Linked DNA regions of Homo sapiens: regions 1, 2 and 4 are each reported to be linked to region 3. The links are microRNA targets in miRTarBase. Many come from high-throughput screens and were not tested one by one. Region 3 holds a microRNA gene; each other region holds the end of a gene's coding sequence.
What was found. Region 3 holds the annotated microRNA hsa-miR-6778-5p (AGUGGGAGGACAGGAGGCAGGU, at 2,042-2,063, opposite strand). A microRNA usually pairs through its seed, bases 2 to 8, with sites in the 3' UTR of a target mRNA and lowers its output. Matches are read on the target gene's strand: a 7mer-m8 pairs with bases 2 to 8, a 7mer-A1 pairs with bases 2 to 7 and ends in A, and an 8mer does both.

Region 1: the mRNA of MRAS is a reported target of hsa-miR-6778-5p. Seed matches in the 3' UTR shown: 7mer-m8 at 4,223-4,229.
Region 2: the mRNA of ALDOA is a reported target of hsa-miR-6778-5p. Seed matches in the 3' UTR shown: 7mer-m8 at 1,128-1,134.
Region 4: the mRNA of RAB10 is a reported target of hsa-miR-6778-5p. Seed matches in the 3' UTR shown: 7mer-A1 at 2,439-2,445.

Annotation. Positions count from the first base shown.
Region 1 is chr3:138,400,841-138,406,951 of GRCh38, forward strand. It overlaps MRAS (muscle RAS oncogene homolog), which reads left to right. Exons shown (of 6, transcript NM_001085049.3): 6 at 1,330-4,693. The coding sequence ends at 1,429. Among named protein-coding and RNA genes, the nearest start is that of ESYT3, 31 kb to the right of the region's middle.
Region 2 is chr16:30,069,131-30,075,241 of GRCh38, forward strand. It overlaps ALDOA (aldolase, fructose-bisphosphate A), which reads left to right. Exons shown (of 10, transcript NM_001243177.4): 7 at 176-259; 8 at 369-543; 9 at 700-899; 10 at 987-1,284. The coding sequence ends at 1,082. It overlaps LOC112694756 (uncharaterized LOC112694756), which reads left to right. Exons shown (of 14, transcript NM_001365304.2): 11 at 176-259; 12 at 369-543; 13 at 700-899; 14 at 987-1,284. Among named protein-coding and RNA genes, the nearest start is that of PPP4C, 3.8 kb to the right of the region's middle. RefSeq lists an enhancer at 5,586-5,765.
Region 3 is chr17:18,338,819-18,344,929 of GRCh38, forward strand. MIR6778 (microRNA 6778) reads right to left here and starts at 2,068; the gene lies at 1,996-2,068. SHMT1 (serine hydroxymethyltransferase 1) reads right to left here. Exons shown (of 12, transcript NM_004169.5): 6 at 1,914-1,995; 7 at 1,225-1,437.
Region 4 is chr2:26,134,402-26,140,512 of GRCh38, forward strand. It overlaps RAB10 (RAB10, member RAS oncogene family), which reads left to right. Exons shown (of 6, transcript NM_016131.5): 6 at 537-3,053. The coding sequence ends at 620. It also overlaps the pseudogene EMP2P1. Among named protein-coding and RNA genes, the nearest start is that of GAREM2, 36 kb to the right of the region's middle.

The DNA.
Region 1 (6,111 bases), not on the chromosome of region 3:
ATGTTAAGTGGAAATGCCTTCCTGTCTGATGCAGTGGCTCAGGCTCCCTGGAAGGCAGCTCCCTCCAGCCTGGCTTCAGTGTTCTCCTCACACCAAAGCTTTCCACACTGTACAAACTAGGTCTCTCTCCTCTTCCCTGCCCTGATATCAGAGCACCCTTTGATATTTCCCCTGAACAACCAATATTCTGATTCCAAGGTTCAAATTTCAGAGGCATTGCACATGTATCTCCTTTCCCAACCCCACCAGCTGTCAATCTCCAAGTATTGTCAGCAATCCTAATGAAAGTTTCTTGTATATTCCTTTGCATGGTCAGGGTCAAGACGTTAATCACCTCATGCACTCATGACTAAAACAGCCTCCTGGCTGCATCCGCTGTCACCAAGCTATCCCATTTCCCAAATCTTTAACATGCACAGCAGCCTAACCAGCGGGTCTCAGACATTGTGCGTTGAGTTTGTGGCCTATATGCTGGCACCTCCAAGGGCTGCTGGTGAGCTGTGAGATCAGCCCCGGGGCTCTAACCCCCACTATACACACATGCCCCCACATGCTCAAAAAGCTCATCTTCTCATTATTCCCCAGCGTAATGAGGAAATATTACATTCTTCACTTTATGTTTTTGCTGGCAGTTTTGCACTCTCAAAATGATTTTCTCATCCAGGCGTAGTGGCTCATTCCTGTAATCCCAGCACTCAGAGGCAAAGGTGGAGGTGGAGGCAAGAGGATTGCTTGAGGCTAGGAGTTCAAGACCAGCCTGGGCAACATAGTGAAATGCCATCTTTACAAAAGAAAGAAAGAAACTATTTGCTCTTGGGCATTTTGCCTCCAATTAGGATGTGCTGCCATCAGGTAGCCTATGGTGATGCCTTGGTTGTGAACCTATAGTGCCAAGGTCAGGTTTTAGACATAGGAAAAGTTAACAGAAAACATGAAATGGCTTTTACGCTCAGTTGACCCATCATTTTATTTAAACTATGAAACACAGGAATAGAGGCCAGCACTCTATAAGACAAAACGTGATGTAGCTTATGATTTATGTAAATGTAGCTACAACATAATGTCAGTCATTCCCATCAGTAGGGCGATTTAGGTTATCCCCTCCCCCATCTCCCCCATTGCATTGCCTCAAGAGAAGCTATCCTGCCAGGCCCTCCTCCAGCGGCCAGGACAGCCACTGGGAGAGGGATGGCATCCCCATCCCCCTCACCCACTAACCCCGCCAGAACAGGCCTCCTCTGACTCAGATCTGGGGCTAGGGAGGAGAGGGGCAGAGGAGAAGCAAAGCCCATTCTGACTTTGTCTTTCTGTCCTTCATTGTTTCAAAAGGCAACAGATTCCGGAAAAAAGCCAGAAGAAGAAGAAGAAAACCAAATGGCGGGGAGACCGGGCCACAGGCACCCACAAACTGCAATGTGTGATCTTGTGACAGGCCTGAGGCCCTGGGCACAGTGACGGTGGCCTGGCCAGCCCTCGGGACCCCTCCCCACCTAACTGCACTGAAACCATTTCTAACCACAACCCTTGGCCCAAGGACTTGGTACAGGAAGGGAGAAGGGCAGGTGGGCAGGGAGCAGACAGGGTCTGGCTTTGCCCAGAGGGCACGGGCTTTCCCACCTCTCAAAGAGACAAGGAAGCCACCTGTAAGCAGAAGCAGCATCCAAGTGCCCCTGGCCCCCCCATGTGTTGATTCAACCCGGTTCCTCCCCCTCTCTCGGTGGGTGTGTTGTTTATTGTAACTACATAGTGTTGGTTTGATGTGGAAGTGTTTATCCACATACAAAGTACAAAACAAGCCATGAACAAGCTTCTTTCCCTTACCCCCCATCCACAATGTCTGAGCTTGGATGTCTTTTATAGATTTTTAAATTATTTTAGTGATTATTATTTTATTAAAGGGGTCTGGGCTCACTGCCTGGTGAAGTTTCAAGTGTTCAGCAGACCTCTCTGGTAACATATCTGGAATATTGTTGTTGTTTTTTAACCGAGTTTTCCCATCAGTGCCAAAACTCAACTCAATCTGAAAGTAGAGTGTCTGAGAGGACAGAAGGTAATGGGAACTGTAGCTGGAGGCCTCAGGCCATGGGTCAAACCTGGGAGGGAAAGAGACCCTACACATGGCCTAGAAATGAGAGAAGAGAGAGGTATTTACCCAGAGGATTTTCCTATGGTTGGGGATGCAAATATTAGAAAACAGATTGTATTTTGCTGAGGGGAGTGGCTGTCATGAGCATGTCAGTTCTAAAAGGGGTTTTCATTATCCTGGAAATGTATAAACTAAAGTAAGCTGATTGGCTTTGCAAACATGTTCATTTGTTTTTCAGACAGTATGGGTTAAGTTCTCTGCCCTCCCCAGGGGTCTGAGGAGGCTCTGGGTTTCTCAGATCTGTCTCTTGCTGCGTTTTCACATCAGCTGTGCTGCTTGGTGCCTCTCTGATACGAATACACTGACACGTCAAAGTAACCTAATGTGGACACCATCCAGAAAACTCCAGTTCATGCTGGATCTTAACCAAAAATGATTCAATACTGTTATCACTAAAACAGCACCAAGACCTGAAGCCATCTTCCCTTGGAGTCAACTGACTACCACCTCTATAAGCCTAGTCAATGAGCAGACCCCTTCCAGTATTTGTAAAAGTAGTACTAGGTTGCCTTTTTGGCAATTTTTATTGACCTGTTGAATCTTGACTATAAAATGATCTGAGAAGTAAGGAAGGCTGGGCTGATGTGTGGCTCTCATATACCTTCTGCAAGGGGGCAGTCTCCCCAGCTCCCTGATGATGCTCACCCCCGCCCCCCCACCTCAGGTGCTGCTGGTGTGAGCCAAAGACTGGAGTTTTTCCAGCTGGGGTGGGAGTGGAGAGACAACAGGAACAACGCTGCACCAAAGAAAAGGTCAGAATAAAAGGCAGCACAGCTGGTGACCTTATTTTCTAGATGTTACAAATCAGGTCACTATGCAAACTAGAATATCCTCAGCAGGTGGCCTGGCCACTCTGGAGAAAGAAACCCAAGGAAAGTGAGCACCCAACTGGATGCCAAGACACCCGGGTTCTGAAAATGTGCTGTGTTCCTACCTCGGCAAGATCACCAGCACTGAGGGGCCCAGCTGGAGAATGATTCTGCTACAAAAGGAGACAGTTGAGACTTTTGCTTGTTGGAAATCAAACTTCTTATTTGTCTAAATTGCCCCTTTTTCTGTTCCTAAAAGGAAGGATAAGAGAGAACATTCCAGGTGAGGCACTTCAAAGTTTCCTTAGACCCTATAGTGTTAAGAGGTATTTTAAACACTAAAAGGACAAAGCTCTTCCCAATCCTTATGCTTCCCTAAGTGGTATCTGCAGCAGTTTGTTGTGTGCAGTTTGATGGCAGCTGCAAACTGGAGGTGAGGCGGAGGAAAGGCAGGTAGGAAGGAGTAAGGATGGAGATGCTCAGAATCAAGAGCATGGCGGAGTAGGAGAAGAAGCCCTGCACACAGGGCAGTGTCCACAGCCAGAAAACTCCTGCTGGGCACCAACCACTACGAGCATACCCCATGCCCACCGTGGAGCTGCAACTCCTCGACAGCACTGAGTTTGATAGTCTCACTGGAAGCAGATCAGCTGATGTAGAACAGAGACCTCGGCCATAAAGGTGAGAAGACATAGGGATTTCAACCACACAGTTGGGACAGAAGGGACAGTGCATCTGTTCATCCATCCTGCACTTGGCCCACGTTGAACTCCATGGTGCCTGAGAGAGACTAGTTAAGGGTTGGTCTTCTGTATCCTCTGCTGTTGAGCCTCTGGTAAGCTTTCATCTCCCATGAACTCATTTCCCCATAAATGAAATGGGTAAATAATGCCCCATTTGTAGAAGTGGGCCCTCATGACTGAGGTAGCTTCCAGATAGGCCAGAGTAGAGTGTAGAGTGTGCCCCGTGACATCCCTCCATCTTCTCCTCCATTATCATCTAGCAGGGTCAGACTGGGAAACCTGGTTGGCCACGCCACACCATGACCGAGGAGCCAACTGGGACTTCTGGCTGTTTGACATCCTCATGTTCCCGTTGGTCTTCCGGAGAATAGTGCTACCCTCACATCCCCTGGAGCACAGCCTTCCTGAAATGCCCTCACCCCATGCCTTTGCCATTGTGTGCTCTCAGATTTCTTCCACTGTTTGACACCCTCCTTAGAGGGCTGCTCTTTTTTTTCCAGAGATAATCCTAGCCATCCTCTCCACTCCCACGGCTGGGGACAATGGCCACTTACTACCTGTGCACTTTGCCACTCGGGACACCTGGATGGTTTCTCTTAGGACTTTGCCCACCTCCTTCTCATGGCACTTGCTGTGGAAAATGCCTGGCTGGCCTCGTGGGGCCTGTCTCACTTTTCCAGGAGACATGACCCACTAACGTGGCAACTTTAACCCAAAGGCCCCTCAGACATGTTACAGCAAATCTGGAGCCACAGACAGGTTCCCTCCATTGGCAGCCCATTGTGTTTGAAATTCCATGTCGGGTTTACTTGGAATGAAAGATACTTGAATTATTGTGCGCCTGTGAGCGCCCAGCTTCTGTTTCATAGTCTTAACAGGTGGCCATTGTCGTGAAACGAGTGATGCCTGAAGATCTCAGTGATGTTTGAACCTTCTGTGTAACTTTTTATTAAGTCTTTGTATCTCTCGACTGATTAATAAAGAAGAGAAACACGTATCTGTCTTAGTTCCTTTTACTCCAGTATTCCTGAAGTTTTGCTGAGAACATTGTGAGTTGTTGGTGTTTTGCCCAGAACATCCACGTCTTACAGAGCATGACCTTGGTGCTAACCAGATCTGAAGTAAGGAGGAGCCCACTGGTGGCCGTGGGGTGTCTCCTTCCTGCATGGAGCTGGAGGATGAAGGCAGGCTAGCACAGCATTTAGAGGCACTACCTCTTGATACTGGGCAGATCTGGATTTTAGCCCTACTACCGACCTTTGTATGCCTTTGGGCAAATGACCTGCCTTAGTCTTGAGCTGCCTTGCCTGTGAATGGGACACTAATGTGCACTTCAAAGTAGCTGGAGGACTAAAGCTAATGTAGGAGTGTGGTGAGGAGCCCAGAAACAGTGCTCTTTGTCCAGGACACCTATTGGATTATCTGCCTGACATTCCTTTTCATAGAAACTGCCCTCTTCCCCCATCCTTAGGGTTACAGTCTTTGGCACAATGTGATTTCATTTTTGTTGATTAAATAGGGCGGGTACTTGACCAAGCTGAATCTCTCAGGCTCCGTTTTCCAGGGAGTACAAGCCAAAACCCTCTCTTGGTAGCTCTTTGGGCAACTCTAGCTGAAACATGTAAGCCTGGGTGCTGGAGGATGCTTCTTATGCCCTCTGGGCTGGAGGCAGAGAAGGCTAGACTGCAGACTGGGGAGAGAGGTGATATGGTGGACCACTCAGGCCTGTCTTCCTGCCCATTCATTCTTTCCACAAATATTTATTGGGCACTACCATATGCTAGGCATTGGTCTGGGTGCTAGGTATATGGTAGTGAACAAGGCAGTGGGTCTTCTAAGTCAGTTCTTTCTCCTCTAGTTCTATATTAGTTTCATTGTGGCTGTTGTAACAAATTACCACAAACTTAGTGGCTTTAAAAGAGAAAAGTATTATCTCACAGTTCTGGAGACCAGAAATCAAAACTCAGTATCACTGCCCTGAAATGAAGGTGCCAGGAGGGCCTTCGCTCCTTACCTCTCCCAGCTTCTGGTAGCTGCTGGCATTCCTTGGCATGTGGCTCCATCACTCCAGTCTTCGAGGCCAGCATCTCCATATCTTTTACTTCTCCATCTTCACATTGCCTTCTCTGTGTGTGTCAAATCTCCCTCACTCTCAGTTGATACTTCTTCCATCACTGAGAAGGTTGAAAACAGCTGAACAGAATTTCCACAGACTCCTTTCACCACCTCTGCCCCCTCCCCAGCATCTGCACCCACCTGCTGTGCCTTCTTAGTTGTTAGTGATGAACCCTCCATGCTCCTGGCTGAAGCCAAGCCCCTTCCTCGAGCACTAGCACATACCAGGCATTACCCTGGCCCCCATCCCTCCTCTGTAACTCCAATTTTCCCCTCTACTGGATCTTTCTCATCTTAA
Region 2 (6,111 bases), not on the chromosome of region 3:
GCCAAGGAGGGATGGTGGGTGGATCTGAGGCGGCTCTTGTCTCCTGTAATCTGAGGGCTTTGAAGCCTGAGTCCCTGGCATCATCAAGATACGGTCTTGACCAGTGGCTGTGGAGAGATGTAGGTGGGACTCTGGGTTAGGAGGCCTCACAGTGACCCTGTCCCTCGCCCTGCAGAATGGCATTGTGCCCATCGTGGAGCCTGAGATCCTCCCTGATGGGGACCATGACTTGAAGCGCTGCCAGTATGTGACCGAGAAGGTAAATGGCTACCTGCCTGACCAGTGCAAGGTGGCTGGCCGGGGACCCTGGGGCTAACCCCTATCCTCTCCTCCACCCCACTACCCACCGTGCGCCTGCTCTGCTCCAGGTGCTGGCTGCTGTCTACAAGGCTCTGAGTGACCACCACATCTACCTGGAAGGCACCTTGCTGAAGCCCAACATGGTCACCCCAGGCCATGCTTGCACTCAGAAGTTTTCTCATGAGGAGATTGCCATGGCGACCGTCACAGCGCTGCGCCGCACAGTGCCCCCCGCTGTCACTGGTGAGGCCCACACTCATCTTGATCTCTATGCAGTAGATAAGCTCCACCCACAACCCTATGCCCATTTGGACGGATTTCCATGGCAACTTCCACCAGCTCCTGCCAGCTTCCTGGGTCTCTGACCACAGCCCCTCTCGCCTCACCCCTGCTCTACAGGGATCACCTTCCTGTCTGGAGGCCAGAGTGAGGAGGAGGCGTCCATCAACCTCAATGCCATTAACAAGTGCCCCCTGCTGAAGCCCTGGGCCCTGACCTTCTCCTACGGCCGAGCCCTGCAGGCCTCTGCCCTGAAGGCCTGGGGCGGGAAGAAGGAGAACCTGAAGGCTGCGCAGGAGGAGTATGTCAAGCGAGCCCTGGTAAGGATAGGCAGGAGGTGGGCAGGGTGCCTGGGTGGATGGGACTCGGAGAAGAGCCCTTCTCACTCCACCCCTCTCCCTGCTTAGGCCAACAGCCTTGCCTGTCAAGGAAAGTACACTCCGAGCGGTCAGGCTGGGGCTGCTGCCAGCGAGTCCCTCTTCGTCTCTAACCACGCCTATTAAGCGGAGGTGTTCCCAGGCTGCCCCCAACACTCCAGGCCCTGCCCCCTCCCACTCTTGAAGAGGAGGCCGCCTCCTCGGGGCTCCAGGCTGGCTTGCCCGCGCTCTTTCTTCCCTCGTGACAGTGGTGTGTGGTGTCGTCTGTGAATGCTAAGTCCATCACCCTTTCCGGCACACTGCCAAATAAACAGCTATTTAAGGGGGAGTCGGCCGTCCGTGTCTTGTGGTGTCTAATGCAGGGGAGGGCCTGGGGAGGTAGCAGAGCCCAGAAGAAGAAAGAGCCCCTGTTCTCTGTTTTTTCTGGGCAGAAAAGGAGTGAAAGGTGGAAGGACCTTCCTGCTCTGTTTTATACTTGGCCAGGGCTTCAAGAAAGGCTGAGAGCTTGTGACATTTTCTTCCAGCCACTGCAGGCTCTGCCCCTTCACCTAACAGCATAAGATAGGGCTAACAGTTGGGGAGTATGGTTGTAACTGCTCATGTCTTAGGAGGCTTCAGCCTCAGCACTTTTAGGTCCAGAACTCAAGGGGGGCAGAAGACCCCTGTGACAAAAACCCACTAACTAGCTCATGAGTGACATGAGCCAGGCAACATAATGGGTGTTTTATATGAGTAGATGCTGTTATTTTTAATTTATACCTAAGGCTCTTTTGCCCAAGATTGAACTGTTTCTTGGTGGAAAGGATTATCAATGCATATCTCTTTTTTTTTTTTTTTTGAGACAATCTCACTCTGTCACCCAGACTGGAGTACAGTGGCACGATCTTGGCTCACTGCAACCTCTGCCTCCTGGGCTCAAGCGATTGTCCTGCCTCAGCCTCCCAAGTAGCTGGGATTACAGGCTCACGCCACTATCGCCTGGCTAATCTTTGTGTTTTTTAGTAGAGGTGGAGTTTCATCACATTGGCCAGGCTAGTCTCCAACTCCTGACCTCACATGGTTCCTCCACCTCAGCCTCCCATAGTGCTGAGATGATAGGCGTGAGCCACTGCGCCCAGCCAATGCTTATCTCCTTAATCTACACTATTGAGTTTTCTGTTTTCCCATCTTTTTTTTTTTTTCTTTTTGAGACAGTTTCGCTCTTGTTGCCCAGGATGGAGTGCAATGGCACGGTCTCTGCTCACTGCAACCTCCCCCTCCCGGGTTCAAGTGATTCTCCTGCCTCAGCCTCCACAGTAGCTGGGATTACAGGCGCAAGCCACCACACCCGGCTAATTTTTTATTTTTAGTAGAGACGAGGTTTCGCCATGTTGGCCAGGCTGGTCTCGAACTCCTGACCTCAGGTAATCCGCCTGCCTCAGCCTCCCAAAGTGCTGGGATGATAGGCGTGACTGCGCCTGGCCTGTTTTCCCATTTTAACAGGAGATGGAATTAGAGAGGGCTTCTTAGTCTCCTTTGGGCTGTGGAATCCCATAAAAACCTTGAATTGTTTCCAATACCCCCTTGGTAATGCAGATACAGAAGTTAAGCTGTAGAGCTCAGGCTCCAGGTGAAGAACTGTGTCTCTGTAGCTGCTGCTTTCCATGAAGCTAGAATGAGCGTGCCATGCCATTACTTTGAGCCTTTCCCCAATGACCCAGGCTGGGGTGTACAGTAACTACATCAGCTCTCTGGACCTAGAGAATCTCTGCAGTGATTCAGGTAGAACGGAGTTACCTAGAACCTTCTAGGAGTATAAAAACTTGGTCCTAGGCCGGGTGCGGTGGCTGACGCCTATAATCCCATCATTTTGGGAGACCAAGGTGGGCGGATCATGAGGTCAGGAGTTTGAGACCAGCCTGGACAACATAGTGAAACCTTGTGTCTACTAAAAATACAAAAATTAGCCGGGCATAGTGGCGCACACCTGTAGTTTCAACTACTTGGGAGGCGGAGGCAGGAGAATTGCTTGAACCCAGGAGGCAGAGGTAATGGTGAGCCGAGATTGTGCCACTGCACTCCAGCCTAGGCAACAGAGCCAGACTCCGTCCCAAAAAATAAAAATAAAACTTGGTCCTTCCCTTTTCTGCTTATTTTGCTTTTATTGCTTACATCTAAAACAAAACCAATCACTATTATCCCTCTAAACTTTGGATTAATTTGTCTGCCTAGCTCATTCAACTCTGGGAAACAAACACTGAAGTAAAGCAAATAAAAATTGAAGGTCGGTAGAAGATGGCAAAGGGGGCATTCCAAAAGGGAACATGTGCAGAGTCTCAGAGACTGGAGAGATTGTTTAAAGATCAATAGTTTCAGCCGGGCACGGTGGCTCACAACTGTAATCCTAGCACTTTGGGAGGCTAAGTCCGGCGGATCACGAGGTCAGGAGTTCAAGACCAGCCTAGCCAATGTGGTGAAACCCCCGTCTCCACTAATAATACAAAAATTAGCTGGGCATGGTGGCGCGCGCCTGTAGTCCCAGCTACTCGGGAGACTGAGGCAAGAAGAGTCGCTTGAATCTAGGAGGTGGAGGTTGCGCTGAGCCAAGATTGTGCCACCACACTCCATCCTGGGCAACAGAGCGAGACTCCGTCTCAAAAAAAAAAAAATAAAAAAGACTAGAGAAGCAGAGAACGTCATATACCAGTTTGGGGGATTTGGACTTTTATTTATTTATTTATTTTGAGACGAAGTCTCGCTCTGTAGCCCAGGCCGGAGGGCAGTGGCACGATCTGGGCTCACTGCAACCTCTGCCTCCCGGGTTCAAACCGATTATCCTGCCTCAGCCTCTCCAGAGTAGCTGGGATTACAGGTGCACGCTACTGCACCCGGCTAATTTTTTGTATTTTTAGTAGAGACGGGGTTTCACCATGTTGGCCAGGCTGGTCTTGAACCCCCAATCTCAGGTAATCCGCCTGCCTTGGCCTCCCAAAGTGCTAAGATTACAGGCGTGAGCCACCATGCCTGGCCTGGACCTCTTAATTTTATGATAATCTGAGTTCCCGAAAGAGTAATTGATAGAAAAAAAAACTACACCTGAGGACACAACTTTCTGAGTTCAAATTTCTTTTTTTTTGAGACAGCATTTCACTCTGTTGTCCAAGCTGGAGTGCGGTGTCACAATTTCGGCTCACTGCAACCCCCGCCTCCTGGGTTCAAGCGATTCTCCTGCCTCAGCCTCCCAGGTAGCTGGGACTACAAGCGCATCACCAAACCTAATTATTATTATTTTTTATTTTTTAGGATAGACAGGGTTTCACCATGTTGGTCAGGCTGATCTTGAATTCCTGACCTCAGGTGATCCACCTGCCTCGGCTGCCCAAAGTGCTGGGATTACAGGTGTGAGCCACCACACACAGCCAGGTTCAAATTTCTTTCTTTTTTTTTTTTGAGACAGAGTCTCGCTCTGTTGCCCAGGCTGGAGTCCAGTGACGCAATCTTGGCTCGCTGCACGCTCTGCCTCCTGGGTTCACGCCATTCTCCTGCCTCAGCCTCCCAAGTAGCTGGGACTACAGGCGCCCGCCACCACGCCCAGCTATTTTTTTGTATTTTTAGTAGAGACGGGGTTTCACTATGTTAGCCAGGATGGTCTCGATCTCCTGATCTCGTGATCCGCCCGCCTCAGCCTCCCAAAGTGCTGGGATTACAGGCGTCAGCCACCGCGCCCAGCCCAAGTTTCTTATTCTTTTTGTTTATAGACTGGGTCTCACTCTGTTGCCCAGCCTGGTCTTGAACTCCTGGGCTTAAGTGATTCGCCTCGGCCTCCCAAAGTGCTGGGATTACATGCTTGAGCCACCACACCTAGCCCCGGATTCAAATTTCAGTGTAACATCCCCAATCCACTGTTATACAAGCAATGAACAAGTTATTTAACCCCTCTGAGCCAGTTTCCTCCTCTTAAAAAAGGCACAAAACTTAATAGAAAGCAACTAAGAAGCCAGGCACGGTGGCTCAAGCTGGTAATCCCAGCACTTTCCGAGGCCGAGGAGAGTGGATCACCTGAGGTCAGGAGTTCGAGACCAGCCTGACCAAAATGGTGAAACCCCGTCTCTATTAAAAATGCAAAAATTAGCTGGGCGTGGTGACGGGTGCTTGTAATCCCAGCTACTCAGGTGGCTGAGGCAGGAGAATTGCTTGAACCCAGGAGGCGGAGGTTGCGGTTTGCCAAAATCGCTCCACTGCACTCCCGCCTGGGCGACAAGAGCAAGGAAGGCTCTGTCTTAAAAAAATAAATAAATGAAAATACAAAAATTAGCCAGGCGTCGTGGCACATGCCTGTAATCCCAGCTACTTGGGAGGCTGAGGCAGGAGAATCGCTTGAACCTGGGAGGCGGAGGTTGCAGTGAGCCGAGATTGTGCCACTGCACTCCAGTCGGGGTGAAAAAGCAAGACTCCGTCTCAAAAAAAAAAAAAAAAAAAAAAAAAGAGGCCGGGCACGGTGGTACACGCCTGTGGTACAGCACTTTGGGAGGCTGAGGCAGGTGGATCATGAGGTCAGGAGATCGAGACCATCCTGGCTAACACGGTGAAACCCCGTCTCCACTAAAAAATACAAAAAAATTAGCCGGGCCTGGTGGCGGGCGCCTGTAGTCCCAGCTATTCAGGAGGCAGAGGCAAGAGAATGGCGTGAACCCGGGAGGCGGAGCTTGCAGTGAGCCGAGATGGCGCCACTGGACTGCAGCCTGGGCGACAGAGCGAGAGAGTGAGACTCTGTCTCAAAAAGAAAAACGGAAGCAACTAAGAAATGTCAAGAGTGCCATTTTGGAATCAGAGAAGTCATGCTGACTGAGGCACAGGCTTGGCGTGGGAAAAGTGGACTCCAATCTGTTAACTTCTGAAGTTGTCCACGGCAAATATTTCTCTGACGGCACAGGAAGAGATCTGAACTTGGCTTCCCTCATCCATTGAACAAGTATTAACAAGTATCTATATATGCCTACCGTGCCAGGCCTTATTCTAACCACTGGGGCTGCAATATTTAAAAAGACAAAGTTGGATCCTCCAAGGACTGTGGTGGGGAAGGCTGACAAAACAAGTAACAAAAATGTGTAACATTAAAAAAAAAGTGTAATGTTAAAAAAAAAAAGTGTAATAAAGTTACAAAGCCTAGCCCCAG
Region 3 (6,111 bases):
TGCTTTGTTAAACAGATGCTTGAAGGCGGCATGCTCATTAAGAGTCATCACCACTCCCTAATCTCAAGTACCCAGGGACACAAACACTGCGGAAAGCCGCAGGGTCCTCTGCCTAGGAAAACCAGAGACCCTTGTTCACTTGTTTATCTGCTGACCTTCCCTCCACTATTGTCCTATGACCCTGCCAAATCCCCCTCCACGAGAAACACCCAAGAATGATCAATAAATACTAAAAAAAAAAAAAAAAAAAAAAAAAAAAAAGAGTAATGTAGTCACCAGAGGGCTGGTGTCTCTGCTGATGCAAAGTTGGCGCATCAGGTCTCACCACAGGCTAAATGATGACCTGACCACTAACAGGCTTTCCCAGGTATGGGAATTCGAAAATAAGGGGAGTGCCTAGGGGTAGGTTATGAGGTAATGGAAAGAAAAACCTTCACTAAAATGATATTAATGTTTATACATCCATGTCTTCTAGTTTGACTACTATGAGTCTTTCTCTTTGAGAAACATGATGGATCACTGTAAGTTCACCAGAATAATGCAGCCTTGTGAGGCCTCCCAGTGGCCCCCAGCCAGCCATGCACCCTCCTTTCATTCAAACACCTGCCTCTCGAGTTCAGCAACCGGCGCCATCCTAACACATAGTGGTTGCTGATCCCCCTCCTATGTTCCTAGGACCTGGATGCACAAAAGTGAAGCAGGAGCTGTGGCTGACAGTCTCCTTCTGGGGATTCCTTTCTTTCTTTCTTTTTTTTTTTTTGAGACGGCATCTCGCTCTGTCGCCCAGGCTGGAGTACAGTGGCACAATCTCAGCTCACTGCAAGCTCCACCTCCCAGGCTCACGCCATTCTCCTGCCTTCGCCTCCTGAGTAGCTGGGACTACAGGTGCCCACCACCACACTCGGCTAATTTTTCGTGTTTTTAGTAGAGACGGGGTTTCACCGTGTTAGCCAGGATGGTCTTGATCTCCTGACCTCGTGATCTGCCCGCTTCGGCCTCCCAAAGTGCTGGGATTACAGGCGCGAGCCACCTCACCTGGCCGGGAATCCTTTCTGTAAAGCCTGTCACTGCTCCTTCCTAAGCAGCTCTTTAAGGGACTGGGATCTTAATATTTTCCAAGGATCCCAGGTCAGAGTTTTTCCCAGCTCCCTCAACTGAATCTGAACCCCCACAGGAGAAATGTAAACCATGGTACCCATCTGTACCCAACATTCGGGAGCTCACCTTTCCTGTAGAAGATCATGCCAGCTCGGCAGCCTCGCAGGGTCTTGTGAGTGGTGGTGGTCACCACATGGCAGTGTTCAAATGGGGAGGGCACCACGCCAGCCGCCACCAGCCCGCTGATGTGAGCCATGTCCGCCATGAGATACGCCCCGTTCTCATCTGCAATCTTCCGTAGCCGGGCATATTCCAGGTTTCGGGAGTAGCAGCTGGTTCCTGAGACAGGAAAGGTGACACAGCTGCATCAGAGATGTCCACCGGCCAGCTGAGTTGGCTTCACAGTGGCCTCTAGATGTGCAGATCTGAAAGCCCAGAGATTTCTTCCCTTAAAGTCTCAGAGCAAAAATGGAGAATGCCCTCAAAAAGCACCTCTGTGCTAAAGGCAACCACTCTAACTCTTCAACGTCTTGGTGGTTGAGATGGCCCCAACTACTATTGCCAGCGCAGTCAGGGCCTGACATTTCTAGATGCTTCTCTGAGAACAGTCTCACATCTTAATCTACATAGCACAAAAAGCAGCAAACACACATCTGTATCCTGAAAGAAACTAATATATGTAGACCCCAGAAACTCAGTTATCCAGGGCAGAAACTAGCAGTGGGCTCAACAGGGTGCGAACATCTTTCCATCCTCATTCTGTAAGAGGCACCAGGCTACTGGTGAACAAGGTGACTTTCCGCCCCGCGCATCACCTGCGATGATCAGCTTCGGGTGGAAGAGGCGTGCGTTCTCCTCCAGCTGGTCATAGTTGATGTAGCCAGTATCTGGGTTCACCTGTGGAATGTCAGGGAGGCAGGTTCAGGCTGCTTCCTCCAACCACACCTGCCTCCTGTCCTCCCACTTGAACTGGCTCCACCCACCATGACAAGAGGAATGATGTCCTAGATGAGGACTTGAGGGTGAGACAGGATGGATACTGGTGTGTTCAGCCTGCTCAACCAAGTATGGCTCACAGACCCAGGAGTCCCTGAGGAGTCCCAGGGTTGTAGTGAGCCCTGCTGCTGGGGCACTACCTGCTGAGAAGGAACCAAAAAGCACCTGCAGAATGAAACAAATGTGACGGGACCACACAATGGAAACCAAAATGGTTACCTTCAGGAACAAGACCAAAATGCCTGCTAATACTACTTCTATTCCAAGTATAATGAGGCAAGAAAAAGAAACAAAAGGCATAACGATTAGGAAAGAAGAAATTTAAAAACTGACATTACACACAGACAACACAATATACCTAGAAAATCAAGATGCTAGGGGCCAACTGTTAGAATAAGCAAATTTAGCAAGGTCACTGGATACAACATTGAAAAACAAGAAGTAGGGGCTGGGCGCGGTGGCTCACACCTGTAATCCCAGCACTTTGGGAGGCTGAGACGGGCAGATCATGAGGTCAGGAGATCGAGACCATCCTGGCTAACACGGTGAAACCCCGTCTCTACTAAAAATGCAAAAAATTAGCCAGATATGGTGGCGGGCGCCTGTAATCCCAGCTACTTGGGAGGCTGAGGCAGGAGAATGGCGTGAACCCGGGAGGTGGAGCTTGCAGTGAGCCGAGATTGTGCCACTGCACTCCAGCACTCCAGCCTGGGCAACAGAGCGAGACTCCATCTGAAAAAAAAAAAAAAAAAAAGCCAAAAAGTATATAAAAGCAAGAAAGATAGAAAATGAAATGTAAATAACAAAAACCATAAAAGGAAAATCATACCAAACCTTTACACAAAACATCATTGCGTTGTGTATTTTGTGTCACAAAATGCTTGACAAATTATAGTAATTAAGGCAGCACGCATTCATGGAAGGGCAGAGCATCTGGCTTAACCAGAAGCAGAACCACACACAACACAGGTCATTGGATCCATGCCAGTGGTGACGCTGCAGTGCAGTGGGGAGAGGATGACCTTTTCAATCAATGGCACTAGGTCAACTGGGCATCCATTTGGACAAAAATGTTATCTGGATGCCCGCCTCACCCACACAAATCAATTCCATATTCAGCAATCCCACTTGTGAATCTATATCTTAAGAACTTGAAATCAGTATGTCAAAGAGACATGTGCACTCCCATGTTCACTGCAGCACTATTCACAATAGCCAAGTTATGGAATAAAGCCATGTCCATCAACAGATGAATGGACAAAGGAAATGTGACACATATATATATAAACAATGTAATAATAATCAGTCTGAAAAAAGAAATTCTGTCATTTGCAACAACACCGATGAACTTGGAGGACCTTATGCTAAGTGAAATACGCCAGGCTCAGACAGACAAATACTGCATGATCTCACTTCTTTTTTGAGACAGAGTCTCACTCTGTCACCCAGGCTGGAGTGCGGTGGTGCCATCTCGGCTCATTGCAACCTCTACCTCCCAGGCTCAAGCGATTCTCCCACTCAGCCTGCTGAATAGCTGGGACCACAGGCAGTGCCACCACACCCGGCTAATTCTTATATTTTTGTAGAGATGGGGTTTCACCATGTTGCCCAGGCTGGTCTCGAACTCCTGGACTCAAGTGAGCCTCCTACCTCGACCTCCCAAAGTGCTGAGATTATAGGTGTGAGCCACCGCACCTGGCCATGTGATCTTACTTCTATGTGAAATCTAAAACAATCGAACTGCTGGGCGTGGTGGCTTATGCCTGCAGTTCCAGCACTTTGGGAGGCCGAGGCAGGTGGACCACCTGAGGACAGGAGTTTGAGACCAGCCTGGCCAACATGGTGAAACCCCGTCTCTACTAAACATTCACAAATTAGCCAGGCGTGGTGGCGTATGCCTGTAATCCCAGCTATTCGGGAGGCTGAGGCAGGAGAATCACTTGAACCCAGGAGGCGGAGGTTGCAGTGAGTCAAGATGGTGCCACTGCACTCCAGCCTGGGCGACAAAGTGAGACTCTGTCTCAAAAAAAAAAAATTAAAATTGAATAAATAAATAAATAAATAAAACAATCAAACTCACAGAAGCAGGGTAGAATGTGGTTACCAGTCACTGGAGGGTGGCAGACAATGGAGAGATACTGAGCAAAGGGTACAAAGTTGCAGTTAGACAGGAAGAAAAATAATAAATATTTAAGGAGTGGGATATGTTAGTTAACTTGATTCAATAGTTCCACACTGTATATACAAATCATAACATCACTGTGCATCCCATAATTATATATAATTTGTTTAAAAAAAAAAGTCAATTCCAAACAGATTGTAGATCTCGATGTAAAATTTAAAATAATTTTTCTTTTCTGGCAACACATCTCTTAGGAAGTTCATTTTATTAAACTTCTATAAACATATGGGTCAGCCAGGCGTGGTGGCTCACATCTGTAATCTCAGCACTTTGGGAGGCCGAGGGGGTCAGATCACCTGAGGTCAGGAGTTTGAGACCAGCCTAGCCAACATGGTGAAACCCCACCTCTACTAAAAACACAAAATTAGCCAGGCATGGTGGTACACACCTGCAGTCCTAGCGATTCAGGAAGCTGAGGGAGGAGAATCGCTTAAACCCGGGAGGCAGAGGTTGCAGTAAGCTGAGATCGTGCCACTGCACTCCAGCCTGGGCGACAAGAGGGAAACTTTGTCTCAAAAAAAAAAAAAAAAAAAAAAAGGGGTCAGCCGGATGCGGTGGCTCATGCCTGTAATACCAGCACTTTGGGAGGCTGAGTTGGACAGATCACTTGAGCCCAGGAGTTCAAGACCAGCCTGGGCAACATGGCAAAACCTTGTCTCCACAAAAAATACAAAAATTAGCCAGGCATGGTGGCATGCGCCTCTAGTCCCAGCTACTTGGGAGGCTGAAGAGGAAAGATCGCTTGAGCCCAGGAGGCAGAGGTTGCAGTGAGCCGAGACAGAGCCACTGCACTCCAGCCTGGGAGGCAGAGCCAGATACTGTCTTAAAAAAAAAAAAAAAAAAAAAGTCATGGGTAAGCACACATAACCAGCAGAGCATAGAGCGCACCACAGGAAAAACTGGGCTCTGGGATCTGAGAAGCCTCAGGGAAGAGGAGATGTGCAGAGAGGCTCCCTGTTCTGAAGGCCCTGACCCAACCTTCCTTCCTCTTACCTTGGTGTCCCCCTCAGAAACTACCAGCACATCTGGAGTGAAAGGTTTCAGGATTGGTGGTCACTCTTTCCAAATAAAAAAAGGCAGTTATAATCCAACCCAACTATAGAAGCTTGCCACAAGGTTTCGGGAACCAAGACCTCATCTAGAAAGTCAAGCTGAAAGATGATTTGTGGTTTTGTTTGCTGTGTTTTGCTTCAGGGGTGTGGTTCTTTCTCAGTCACCTGAATTTGGCAAAGAAACCGTTTTATGAAATGAAATATCAACAGCTGACCTCCAGTAAAAATGGACGTAATTCACCGGGCATGGTGGCTCACGCCTGTAATCCCAGCTCTTAGGGAGACAGAGGCAGTAGGATAGCTTGAGTCCAGGAGTTTGAGACCCGCCTGGGCAACATAGTGAGATCTTGTTCTCCACAAAAAGGAAAAAAAAAAAGATTTAAAAAAAATGGACATAATTCTAAAATTTTTTGTGTAGCCACAATTACCGGAAAAAAAAAAAAAAAAAAAAAAGCCTGTGCTGCTTTCTCCCTTTTTAATTTAATGGGTTTTTCAAAGGTTTTTCTTTTCTTTTTTTAATCTTGAAAATGAGACAAGAGAACAACTCCTAGAAGAATTCATAGGCATTTATAATAAACTGCAGATGGGGTCCACAGTGCACAGAGGATAAGGAAGGAGACCCCAGCAGTCACTTAGGACCAGGGACAGGGAGGAATTCTCGAGTCACAGTGGGGATGGGCCAAAAACACAAAATAGAAGGTTAATGTTGCTGTTGCTCTAGCCTGGCCCTGCGTGGGGCTCTTGCAGTGGAGTGGGGCAGGGGCTGAAGGTGGAGGCAGGCGG
Region 4 (6,111 bases), not on the chromosome of region 3:
GCACTGTGCTCAGCCATCTATATCCATTTTTAACATGAATTAGATAACTACATTTTGCTCCACTCCTTTTCACTTAATCAGTTGAGGTTGCCTTTTTAAAACTATGATACAGTAATAAAATTGGTCTAAAAAGGCAGATAACAGAAAAGGGCAGTTTTATTTCTGTGACGTTACATATACCTAACACTGGTTTCATACAACTTGCTCCACAATGCCTTTTAAGTACTAAACATATTCAGAGGTCAGGGCTAGAAGATAACAAAATCTATTTAAGAGTTAGAGCTGAGAAGATTTCAGAAGCTTTATAAAGGCATGCCAGGAAATGTCTACAATATTTCACAGCTTGGAGGAAGCAGGCAAAAAGAAAATCAAAACAAAGCTTCCAAATCTTTACTTTGCACGGAGGGGAAACCTATCTCCTGTGATTGTAGTTGTATTTTGTTGTATAAATTGACATAAGAATATTCCTGTTGAATCGTGATTTTATCCATGGCAGTGTTTTTTCATGAGTTATTTTCCTTGTGTGTTTGTTGCAGACCCCTGTAAAAGAGCCCAACAGTGAAAATGTAGATATCAGCAGTGGAGGAGGCGTGACAGGCTGGAAGAGCAAATGCTGCTGAGCATTCTCCTGTTCCATCAGTTGCCATCCACTACCCCGTTTTCTCTTCTTGCTGCAAAATAAACCACTCTGTCCATTTTTAACTCTAAACAGATATTTTTGTTTCTCATCTTAACTATCCAAGCCACCTATTTTATTTGTTCTTTCATCTGTGACTGCTTGCTGACTTTATCATAATTTTCTTCAAACAAAAAAATGTATAGAAAAATCATGTCTGTGAGTTCATTTTTAAATGTACTTGCTCAGCTCAACTGCATTTCAGTTGTATTATAGTCCAGTTCTTATCAACATTAAAACCTATAGCAATCATTTCAAATCTATTCTGCAAATTGTATAAGAATAAAGTTAGAATTAACAATTTTATTTTGTACAACAGTGGAATTTTCTGTCATGGATAATGTGCTTGAGTCCCTATAATCTATAGACATGTGATAGCAAAAGAAACAAACAAAAGCCAGGAAAACACTCATTTTCGCCTTGAATATGTAAATGGGATTAATTTTGTCCTGTGCCTTATGTGGAAAGGAACTTCTTTGGTTTTCCTTTTTTGTTCTGGTGGAAGCATGTGCAGGAGACATATCATCCAAACATAAACCATTAAAATGTTTGTGGTTTGCTTGGCTGTAATTTTCAAAGTAGTTAATTGAGGACAAAGGGTAATGCAGAAGTGATAGCTTTGGTTTGCTGAGTCTTGTTTTAAGTGGCCTTGATATTTAAAACTATTCCTGCCACCATTTCTTCTCCTTGGCCACTTCTTCCTTGCGTCTCCCTGCATGCTGCTTTATTTGCTTCTCCCTCCCCAACCACCTCATGGTATATTTAAGAGTGAAAGGGACAAACTAGTAGGTTTGTCAAGTTTAATATAAAGCACTGATGTAACTTGCTAGGTAAACGGAAAGATAAGTTCTAACTGCCTACTATCCAATGTCAGTTAATTGGTGTCTTCCCCCCTCATTTGCTCTCTTCCCTAAAATGTGTCCCAGATGCCTTCATTTGCTGTTTTACTTCTATGTTCTGCTTTTCCTCCTCTCTTTGTTCCCTTCCTGTCTATCCATTGAGTTTATGAAATGGAAGAGTTAACTGCATGCACTAGTGTTTGGAGGGTGTTGTGGTTTGTCTTTCTAATTAGGTGTATAGCCTATTCACTTTCCTAGAATAAATCTCTTAACCTAAATTTGAGTAGTCTGCATTTTGGCAACTCCTCTAGCAGCTTGGTAGCCTAGTACAGGTTGTTTTTTTAAAAAAGGAAAAGCAGGAAGGAGGAGTGAATTTTATTAACATGTTTGCCAAATGTATTGAGATTTGGCCTCTGAAGAACACTTTTTCAGTGTTAAGTTTCTTTACCTTAAGATTCAGAAATACTTTAGAATATTATTAATTTTAAGTCCTGTCTTTACATCCTTTTGGAAAACTTGTATTACCATGGGTTTGGAAAAAGGACAACGAAAGGCTTTTCATGTAAAGATAAGATCTTTAGCTATCTCTAACCCTGTCCTTTTTTCACTGCATTTTTTCTAGTTTTGCTTCATTGCTTATCATTAGGATAGGGTAAGTGAAGTTTGCTATGCTGCTAGCATCCTAAGATGATACCTTTGTTGAAAGAATTGTGAATAGCATGATTCATTTCTAGCAGAGGCTGAGTTTAGGACAGCAGCTTCCATTGAGAAGTCTTTCTGTGTCGTGAATAGCATTTTAATGACCTCTTGGCTCACATAAGCAAACAACATAGGGACGTATCTGCTATGAAAATCCACAAATTTTTCAGATAGTGCCCTAAAAACAATTTTATATGCCTCACTGGTTGTTATTCTTAGGTTATTCCCACACTTGACTTTATCATTGTTTACTACTAGTAAAAAGCAGCATTGCCAAATAATCCCTAATTTTCCACTAAAAATATAATGAAATGATGTTAAGCTTTTTGAAAAGTTTAGGTTAAACCTACTGTTGTTAGATTAATGTATTTGTTGCTTCCCTTTATCTGGAATGTGGCATTAGCTTTTTTATTTTAACCCTCTTTAATTCTTATTCAATTCCATGACTTAAGGTTGGAGAGCTAAACACTGGGATTTTTGGATAACAGACTGACAGTTTTGCATAATTATAATCGGCATTGTACATAGAAAGGATATGGCTACCTTTTGTTAAATCTGCACTTTCTAAATATCAAAAAAGGGAAATGAAGTATAAATCAATTTTTGTATAATCTGTTTGAAACATGAGTTTTATTTGCTTAATATTAGGGCTTTGCCCCTTTTCTGTAAGTCTCTTGGGATCCTGTGTAGAAGCTGTTCTCATTAAACACCAAACAGTTAAGTCCATTCTCTGGTACTAGCTACAAATTCGGTTTCATATTCTACTTAACAATTTAAATAAACTGAAATATTTCTAGATGGTCTACTTCTGTTCATATAAAAACAAAACTTGATTTCCAGCTGTGTGGTTTGGTTTTCATTTATTTATGGAATTGGAAGATTACTTCTGAAAAAAATGTGGAATCGCAAACTCAAAGAGTTGACAAAAATGGGAAATCACTGTCAACCTATGGAAAACTGGAAAGGCAATTTCAAGAACTGTCTTTGCTGAGAAACTACATTAAAAAATAGAATTATCTCTGGGATCCTAAAGCGGAATCATCCTTGTGCCAAAATAGGAGATGCCACGATCCTAATCACACCTGGCTTACACTAGTTGGATGTGCCTAAGGCCACTACAGCTGAGGTCACCTGATTCCTCAGGGGGACCAAGCTGGGCTCCTCATACTGGAGGGTAAATCCTTGTTTTAGCAGCAGCTGGCCTCTTACTAAGAAACAAAGTATTGGCCAGGTGCGGTGGCTCATGCCTGTAATCCCAGCACTTTGGGAGGTCAAGGCGGACGGATCACGAAGTCAGGAGATGGAGACCATCCTGGCTAACGTGGTAAAACCCCGTCTCTATTAAAAATACAAAAAAATTAGCCGGGCGTGGTGGCGGGCGCCTGTAGTCCCAGCTACTCGGGAGGCTGAGGCAGGAGAATGGCGTGAACCCGGGAGGAGGAGGAGGAGGCTGCAGTGAGCCGAGATAGCGCCACTGCACTCCAGCCTGGGCGACAGAGCAAGACTCCGTCTCAAAAAAAAAAAAAAAAAAAAAAAAGTATTGGCTGGGCGCTGTGGCTCACGCCTGTAATCCCAGCACTTTGGGAGGCCGAGGCGGGTGGATCACCTGAGGTCAGGAGTTCAAGACCAGCCTGGCCAACATGATGAAACCCCGTCTCTACTAAAAATACTAAAAGCCGGGCGTGGTGGCGCATACCTGTAATCCCAGCTACTTGGGAGGCTGAGGCAGGAGAATCACTTGAACCCAGGAGGCAGAGGTTGCAGTGAGCCGAGATCGCACCACAGCACTCCAGCCTGGGCTATAGAGCAAGACTCCTTCTCAAAAAAAAAAAAACAAAAAACAGTATTTCCTGCTTTTGTTATACATAGCAACAGCCTTGTCTTTATGTGTAGGGAAAAGAAATGTTTGATCCTATATTCAGGCTTTATTAGTCAATAATAAAGATAAATATTTGTTGACAAGATTGTCTCTGCTGAAAGTATATGTAGAGTTTTTCTCAGATGCAGTGATTTTAAGAATCACATGGAGTGTTTTTAATGTTCTATTCCTTCCCCCCAACATACTTGTTTTGTTGGGACCTACAATTCTGCCTTTGCTGGGTGCAGTGGCTCACGCCTATAATCCCAACACTTTGGAAGGCCAAGGCGGGTGGATCACCTGAGGTCAGGACTTCGAGACCAGCCTGGCCAACATGGTGAAACCCTGTCTCTACTAAAAATACAAAAATTAGCCGGGCATGGTGACACATGCCTGTAATCCCAACTACTTGGGAGGCTGAGGCAGGAGAATCGCTTGAATCCGGGAGGCAGAGGTTGCAGTGAGCCGAAATCATGCCACTGCACTCCAGCCTGGGTGACAGAACAAGACTCTGTCTCAAAAAAAAAAAAAAAAAAAAAAAAAACAAACAAGATTGGTGTAGGGAAATAGGATATGGTCTCCCCCCTTAAATCGATGGTCTAGTTTAGAAAACAAAAGTAATTCATCAAGTTAAGCATATACAAGAGCCAAATAATTGTAATCTGGATTTTAATTGCTGTATTAATATATCAAGTTCAGTTGGTGAGAATGGGATTGCTTTTGGGGGGAGGAGGGACATTAATTGGTTCTTCGAAATGTCGATTCACTGGCTAGGGCAGATGGGGAGGTCATTGTAAGAAGAGACCACAGAGACTAGACAATGACAGGCCCTGGGGAGTCATGGTAAACTCGAGAGTGGCGAGAGCAGTGTGTTTGTGGAAAGCAAGTTTAGATGGATTTGAATAGGAGAAACAAGGGTTCTAGAGGTCACATGGGAAGTCGTGTTAATCAGGGTTTCAATAAGACCGGGCTAAAATGGCAGAGGGAAATGCAGGGTTGAAGGCAAAGGTAGTGTGTGAATGGGGGCGCGGTGTATTTCTGGTGAGCCTGCTAGGTGCTTTTTTGGCACTGCTCTAGGTACTTTGGGTTAGGTCTTCAACGTCCTTGTGAATTAGTACCCAAGAAGAAACGGCCTCAGATTAAGTCATTTGCTTAAGGTTGCACAGCCAGTTGGTGCTGGAGTCGGATTTTGAAACCAGGCCAACACCACTGTCCCTCCTGTGTTCACTTCACCTTATCACAGTTCTCAGGAGGGCCTGGGGTAATGAACAGGTGGCAGAGACAGCAGGAAGAGTCTGGAGTGGTTGTGTGACCATTTAGCCCAACCTTGGCACCTTCTAACAAAGAGTAATACCCTCGAAGTATACTTCATTTACTACTGTTTCTGCTTTATATTACCCCTCAGCATCTCGCGCAGAAGAAAGCAAAGGGAAGCAATGGGGCATCTGATTGGTCTGGGAGCTCCAGATAGCCAGCAGGTACTTGAAGGCTGCAAGCCAGCTTGAGAGCAGTGGCTGGAACTGGAAGGGGTGTGCACACTACCAATAGCAAGTGAGCAAGAGAGACCCACAATAAACTGAAGGTTATTACAGTACTACAGTAGGCTCTAAGAAAGTCCCTTCTCCCACTTTAAGAAACAGGGCTTTTTTTTTTTTTCTTTTTTACTTTTAAAGGAAACAATTCATTTGCTAGAAAAACCTAAAAAAAAAAAAGATTATATACAAAATGGTTGTCTGAATGTGGATTTTATACTGCAGCAAAAGCAACCCAGCTCTGGAACTCTATTCGGCTTCCTCAGTTATCAGGTACATCATGCTGCTGATGAAGGTGAAGGCGAAGGCCACCCACGCCAGGATGTAGGAGTAGCCATAGCTGCCTTCTTTGGTCAGGTAATAGAAATCCGTTGTTTCATCGCGCCTGTCTGTATAAATGGAGGCTGCAATCATGAGGCACAGATATGACATTGTAGCATGGTGTACTTTTTTTTTTTTTTTTTTTTTTTTTTTTTTTTTGAGACGAGTTTCGCTCTTGTTGCCCAG